Linked DNA regions of Homo sapiens. The protein of the gene in region 1 interacts with the protein of each later gene in a pairwise test. Each region holds a gene or a part of one and is shown on either strand. Other genes may lie near its edges. The genes, in order: ASB8 and CELF1.

Region 1 (3,820 bases):
ACAATGGGGGCAAGCAGGGTGGGGACAGAAAGGTAAAAGAATGAAATCCTTAGATCATTTTATATATTTACCATTACATTTTCCTTAATATTGGCTATGCCAACATTACCTTGAGTTAGAAGTTCAGACTGGAGGAGGGAAGAGATGGAGGAGTGATGGGGAGAAATTCTAAGAAAACATGAAGCTCAAGTTTTAGTGAGTCATTAATGTGAATGTGTTAAAAACATTACCTCGGCTCCTTTTTCCAGAAGTAACTCCACACAGTCAGCATCTGACACCATACAGGCACAGTGCAAGGGCTTCAGTGTGCCATGAGTGCAGTTCACATCTGCTCCCTGTGGGCAGAAGACAACTTCAGTCAGTGTGTTCAGCTCTGGCTTGCCCAGCAGGACAGAATTCAGAACTGAGTCCAGGGGACAGAGAGTTCTAACTCTCACTATTTTATAGATACAGTGCTAGTTCCTGTTTCCTTTTCTATTAATATTATGTCAATGTCCAAACCAAAGGAGTACACTGAAGATGAAGGAAAGGAACTGTTAATTCCTTAGATCAAGTTACTAAGTTTCTCCACAAGGGAGGCTGCCAGATGGTCACCTGGACATCACTGAAGACAATCTTATGTATCAAAGCACTGGAAACCTTATCATCAGGCAGGAAAGCTGGACCAGCAATCCACTTTCTATGGCCACCATGCTCTGGAAAAGTAGGAAAGTGAGTCTGTCAGACTGAGGCCAGAAATGGCATGCTCTTTTGTCCATTCAACAAATGACCATCATTAATAGTGGCATCATCTTAACACGGTTTTTCCTTTTTTATAAACATCTTCAAAGTAGCCTCTTAGTATCAGTATTCTTTACCATCTAGCCTTTGCTGGTGCTTCTATTCAAAATCAAAGGAGAGGCCGAGTACAGTGGCTCACACCTGTAATCCCAGCACTTTGGGAGGCTGAGGTGGGCAGATCACCTGAGGTCAGAAGTTTGAGACCATCCTGGCCGACATGGTGAAACCCGGTCTCTACTGAAAATACAAAAACTAGCTGGGTGTGGTGGCGGGCATCTGTAATCCCCGCTACTCGGGAGGCTGAGGCAGGAGAATCGCTTGAACCTGGGAGGCGGAGGTTGCAGTGAGCCAAGATCGCGCCATTGCACTCCAGCCTGGGCGACGAGCGAAACTCCGTCTCAAAAAAAAAAAAAAAATCAAGGGAGATGGAGATACCAGTCAGACCAAAGTCACTGAATGACTCAGCAGCAGAGCTAGAATTAGAATGTTACAAGGTTTCTACCGCGGAGTCTCCTGACACTACTTTTGCTGACAATAAGCTAACACTGCATGACTTTTCCTTCTTCAGTTGTGTCCAATAACTCTGAAGCAGCTACAGAGATCTAGGCTGTAAATGACGAGCCTGAAGTCTTAGAATATACACAAGTAACCATCTGGATGCATTTTCTGGTGATCAAAAACTGTGTAACTTCTCTTCAACAAGAAAAATAAATAGAAGAGGATAGTAAAGACCTTCTAGGATACTAGTCACATAACAATTATTGAAGGGCCATGATTAAACATCCGATGGTTAAGGTGTTTTCTTAAACTATAATTACCATGCATTTTAGAGGTTGATATCCTCTACAGAGCTAGAAGTGGTAGCTGCTTTTAACATAGAATGTAAGTAAAAAATCTCTCCATGTAATTATTGTAACCCAGGTATGAAGAAAGGCTCACAAGGATTTAAAAACCACCTCTGTAGCCAGGCACAGTGGCTTACACCTCTAATCCCACGACTTTGGGAACCCAAGGCAGGTGGGTTGCTTGAGCATGAGAATTCAAGACCAGCCTGGGAAACATGGTGAAACACCATCTCTACAAAAAATTAAAAAAAAAAAAATTAGCTGGACATGGGTGGCATGTGCCTGTAGTCCCAGCTACTTGAGGGGGCTGAGGTGGGAGGATCGCTTGAGCCCAGGAGGTCAAGGCTGCAGTAAGCCATGTTTGTGCCACTGCACTCCAGCCTGGGTGACAAAAGTGAAGCCCTGTCTCAACAAATAAAAATAAAAACCACCTCTGCTTTGCTCACCTCCTCCCTTAATAAAACATGTATAGAAGACTTTGAGCTCAATGGATTACATATGCATCGTACTCAGATATTTTACAAAGAACATGAGACTAGGGTTATTGAGAACATATTCCATGAAGAAAAATATCAGATACACAAAGTGAAAGGGAGAAGGGAAGCGAAGCAAACATAGGGGAAATACATTTTAATGATCAAGTTAATGCAGTTAGCAAAATGTAAAAACTCCCTGTGATCTTGGGTTGAGTCAAAGCTGCAAATCTGTGATCCATGAGGATTTTGCCCACTTCATATCGCAAGGACTCTCCTGTCAATACCAGCACACTCACCCCTCTGATGAGGTCCTCTACATTATCATGTGGGAAGGAACGGATGGCAGCAATTGTTCGGATTAAGCGCTCGGAGAGAGAGTATTTGCTCTGAATGCTCTGCATAATATACCACATACTGGAACTCATCAAGGCTCAAGGTGTTCACATGCTCCAAACTGCCTGAAACAAAGAAGTTTTCGGCATATACAATATCACTGAGCACACCTGTCTTTAGGGTTAGGTCTTCTCTGAGGCCTTCCCAATGCTAAAAGCAGATTTCAAGGAGTGATTAATACTATTTCCATAATCATAAGGAATTGGATTATAATAGTTGCCTAGGGAGTTGGATAAACCTGGACACAAATGTTCTACTCTAACCTAGTCTAGCACGAGATTTCCCCAAGAGGTACTAAGACCCCCGTGGAGCTCTGTGTGGTTTACAAACGACTAGGCAAGGAATAGGATTTTTAAAAGGCTGAAGAGGTCAAAAAACATTATTTTCCTTCTTTGAATTTTTGTGGTTTTTATGATCAGCACCACCATTAAGTTATTTATAACACTGGGCCTTGCAATATAGTTATGTACATATTGTTTCTCCATCGAAACTGTAATCAACTGGAAGGCAAGGACTTTGTCTTCTACTTTTTCACCCATGTAAGGCCAGCCACAGAATCTCACAAAAGGTAGGTATTTAACAAATATTGGTTGGTCGACTGACTAAACAGTATAGAAGTGATTGTTATGTGTGAAAAGAGAGGAAGAAGGCTATGGAGCAAATATATCTTAATAATGAAAAGTTATCTGAAACATTTTCAAATGTGTTCAGAAGAGGAAAAAAAGGAAATATTTGGCAGGGCGTGGTGGCTCATGCCTGTAATCCCAGCACTTTGGGAGGCCGAGATGGGTGGATCACAAGGTCAGGAGATCCAGACCATCTTGGCTAACACAGTGAAACCCCGTCTCTACAAAAAATACAAAAAAATTAGCTGGACGTGGTGGTGGGCGCCTGTAGTCCCAACTACTTGGGAGGCTGGGGCAGGAGAATGGCGTGAACCTGGGAGGCAGAGCTTGCAGTGAGCCGAGATCGGGCCACCGCACTCCAGCCTGGGCAACAGAGTGAGACTCTATCTCAAAAAAAAAAAAAAAAAAAAGGAAATATTTGAGGTAGTATTCTAAAATAGGTAAGGAAAGCAAAAGTATAACTACCCTGGAGTCATTTATATAAAACTAGGAAAAAATTAAAATTCAGAATAATAAAATGTACTTTCAGTTTTAGGAAAATTTGCAGATTTTAAAATGAGTTAAAGGTGGGGCGTGGTGGCTCACACCTGTAATCCCAGCACTTTGGAAGGCTGAGGTGGGTGGATCACCTGAGGTCAGGAGTTCGAGACCAGCCTTACCAACATGGTGAAAGCCCATCTGTACTAAAAATACAAAAAAA
Region 2 (3,820 bases), on another chromosome or scaffold:
CCCCCTCTCACTAATTTTAATAAACCCAGCCCTCTTTTAAGATCTGATCTGTCAGTGGAGGAAGGATTGCTCTAGGAATTCTCTGCTTTCCAAAGTTTGATTTTATGAAATCTTATTTATTGCAGGGTGCTGTTTTGTTACATTTTACACCCGTAAAGCTGCATTAGAAGCTCAGAATGCTCTTCACAACATGAAAGTCCTCCCAGGGGTAAGAAAGCTCCCACTAGTAAATGGAAATGTGGTAACTTTGATATGTGGGATATACTTACACATATCAGACACACACTGAAAACCATTTTGGGGAAAAGGTAACTGCTGCAGGAATTGATGTAAAGGAAGACATAAAGGGAGCAGTTCAGAGATTACCTGACATTAGTTCTCTCTCAGTCAAGAGTCTTGTGTATTTTGACTTCTTGACTCACATTCTGTTTTCTGGGGAAAGATCATGAAGCAGACATGAGTTCAGAGAGAACTCTTTAAAGCTCTAGTTCTGGTATTTTAGAGTCCATATGTATTTTTGAATACCATCAATATATACAGTGATAATAATCATATTTTTCCTTTTCAGATGCATCACCCTATACAGATGAAACCTGCTGACAGTGAGAAGAACAATGGTAAGCAAATGTATACAATCTTCCCCTTAAGATTTCTGCCTAGGCCAGGCACGGTGGCTCACACCTGTAATCCCAGCACTTTGGGAGGCCAAGACAGATGGATTGCTTGAGGCCGGAGTTCGAGCCAGTCTGGCCAACATGGTGAAACCCCGTCTCTACTAAAAATACAAACATTAGCTGGGTATGGTTGTGCATGCCTGTAATCCCAGCTACTCAGGAGGCTGAGGCATGAGAATCTCTTGAACCCGGGAGGCGGAGGTTGCAATGAGCTAAGATCATGCCAGTGTACTCCCGCCCAGGCAACAGAGTGAGACTCTGTCTCAAAAAAAAAAAAGATTTCTGCCTAGTTTGTTTGCTGTTCTTAGGTTATCTGAATTGAATTGTGCTTTAAGTAATCCGTTGTCTAAGTTGTCTCAGTTTTTTCTTTAAAAGTATGATGAAGAACAGAGCTGACAGAGAAATATTATAAGAACATTGTAGAATGAACTGGAATATACTTGGTCAGTATAATTTCTTTTGGACAGGAATGAGGGGGCAAAATGAACAAATTAGGAAGGAGAACTTAATTCTCGAATTTTTTTTTTTTTTTGAGATGGAGTCTCACTCTGTTGCCTGGGCGGGAGTACACTGGCATGATCTTAGCTCATTGCAACCTCCGCCTCCCGGGTTCACTGCATTCTCCTGCCTCAGCCTCCCGAGTAGCTGGGACTACAGGTGCCTGCCACCACGCCCGGCTAATTTTTTGTATTTTTAGTAGAGACGGGGTTTCACTGTGTTAGCCAGGATGGTCTCGATCTCCTGACCTTGTGATCCGCCCGCCTCGGCCTCCCAAAGTGCTGGGATTACAGGCGTGAGCCACCACGCCTGGCCTTAATTCTCAAGAAGATAGTCAGGACCAGGTGAGGTGGCTCATGCTTGTAATCCCAGCACTTTGGGAGCGCACGGCGGGCGGATCACCCGGCCAACATGGTGAAACCCTGTCTCTACTAAAAATACAAAAATTAGCTGAGTGTGGTGGTGCATGCCTGTAATCCCAGCTACTCAGGAGGCTGAGACAGGAGAATCGCTTGGACCCAGGAGACGGTGGTTGCAGTATGCTGAGATCGTGCCACTGCACTCCAGCCTGGGTGACAGAGCAAGACTCTGTCTCAAAAAAAAAAAAAATTCAGAAAAGTAGACAGTTACATTCACTGAAAGGTGTATTCTCTTCCACTTGTCATATCAAGTGTGAAAACCTCTTCTTTCTTTAGTAGTATTGCCAGTAAGAGCAAACAATGCTGGCTGGGCACAGTGGCGCACACCTGTAATCACAGCACTTTAAGAGGCTGAGGCCGGAGGATTGCGTAAGCCCAGGAGTTTGAGACCAGCCTTGGCAATAAGAGTGAAACCTCTCTGCAAAAAATTAGCTGGGTGTGGTGGTACATACCTGTGGTCCCAGCTATTCGGGAAGCTGAGGTGGGAAGATTGCTTAAACCCGGCAGGTCAAGGCTGTAGTGAGCCATGATCATGCCACCGCACTTCAGCCTGGGTGACAGCGAGACTCTTGTCTCAAAAAGAGGAAACAATACAAAGGACTAGGGAAGATGCCAAGTACTTCACATTTAATAGCAACTGCTACCCTTTGAAGTAAACCTGATTATTCCTATTAGTTAGATGAGGAAACAGGCACAGAATGGTTGAGTAACTTTCACAAGATTACAAAGCTACCATATTTCATCTAAATGCTTCTAATTATAATTTTAAGATAACATTGGTTATAAAAAGAGACGTGAAGCCGGGCGTGGTGGGTCACACCTGTAATCCCAGCACTTTGGGAGGCCGAGGCGGGTGGATCACCTGAGGTCGAGAGTTCAAGAACAGCCTGACCAACATGGAGAAACCCCATCTCTACTAAAAATACAAAATTAGCCAGGCATTTTGGCGCATGCCTGTAATCCCAGCTACTCAGGAGGCTGAGGCAGGAGAATCACTTGAATCCGGGAGGCGGAGCTTGCGGTGAGCCGAGATCGCGCCATTACACTCCAGCCTGGGCAACAAGAGCGAAACTCCATCTCAAAAACAAGAAAAAAAGAGATGTGAAAAATACAAAAAACAAATGTGTGTCTTTGAATCTGTAAAATATGGTACAGAGCCAGGATTCAAACCCAGGCGGTCTGGCTCCCAAATCTGTGCCACATTGCCTCTTTAAGTAGTAATATTCAAGTCTTTTCTGTTTTACTCTCTTAGCAGTGGAAGACAGGAAGCTGTTTATTGGTATGATTTCCAAGAAGTGCACTGAAAATGACATCCGAGTCATGTTCTCTTCGTTTGGACAGATTGAAGAATGCCGGATATTGCGGGGACCTGATGGCCTGAGCCGAGGTAGGTAGTTTTAGCTTTTAAATAATCTTTTGGTTTTTTGTTTTGGTTTGGTTTGGGGTTTTTTTTTTTTTGGAGACAAGGTCTTGCTCTCTCTCACCCAGGCTGGAGTGCAGTGGTGCCTTCACAACTCACTGCAGCCTGAACCTCCCAGGATCAGCCTCCTGAGTAGCTGGGACCACAGGCATGCATCATGACACCCAGCTAATTTTTAAATTTTTTATAGAGAAAAGGTCTCCCTGTGTTGCCCAGGCTGGTCTTGAACTCCTGGACTCAAACGATCCTGTCATCTTGGCCTCCCAAAGTGCCAGGATTGTAGGTGTGAGCCACTGCACCGGGCTTGGAATCTTTTTAATTTGACCGGTGGAAACTAGCAACAGTGATTCCCTAGCCAATATGGCCCAGTCAAGATAAAGAGGTTGGGCCTGCTGCTTCCTGCTGTATATCTATGTCCTGTCTTGACTCCTCCTATCAGTTCATTCTTTTTGTCTCCCAGCCCCTCTAAGGAGTCTACATTCTATATTTCATTGTCATGTATTAAAATTTTCTCTTTTGGTGCTTTGCAAGATCCTTGATGCCAAAATGGAAATACTTTCTTCTTCCATTTTCTTTTATTTTCAAGAGGAACTAGAGGATATGAGTCCTCCTTTCTCCTGTCAAGCATTTTTTTTTTCTGTCAGTGGTTCTGTTTTTTCATTATAGCACATATCACCCTGTTGCAACATACCAGCACATGATTCCCTGAAAACAGGGACTGTGTCTGTATTGCTAGCATGATAGTCAGCACATAGTAGGTGCTCAGTTAATGTTTGTCAGAGAAATAAATGAATGCATGAGTTACTGAC

The links.
Region 2: the proteins of ASB8 (region 1) and CELF1 interact in a two-hybrid assay, tested with the Homo sapiens proteins (one large-scale study listed by IntAct).

Annotation. Positions count from the first base shown.
Region 1 is NC_000012.12:48,150,971-48,154,790, forward strand, and holds part of ASB8 (ankyrin repeat and SOCS box protein 8), read right to left. Parts: intron 2,560-3,820; 5' UTR 2,527-2,559; coding exon 2,398-2,526; intron 696-2,397; exon of another isoform or gene 595-695; intron 336-594; coding exon 231-335; intron 1-230. UniProt on the Homo sapiens protein: May be a substrate-recognition component of a SCF-like ECS (Elongin-Cullin-SOCS-box protein) E3 ubiquitin-protein ligase complex which mediates the ubiquitination and subsequent proteasomal degradation of target proteins.
Region 2 is NC_000011.10:47,483,547-47,487,366, reverse strand, and holds part of CELF1 (CUGBP Elav-like family member 1), read left to right. Parts: intron 1-125; coding exon 126-208; intron 209-568; coding exon 569-617; intron 618-2,843; coding exon 2,844-2,978; intron 2,979-3,820. UniProt on the Homo sapiens protein: RNA-binding protein implicated in the regulation of several post-transcriptional events. Involved in pre-mRNA alternative splicing, mRNA translation and stability.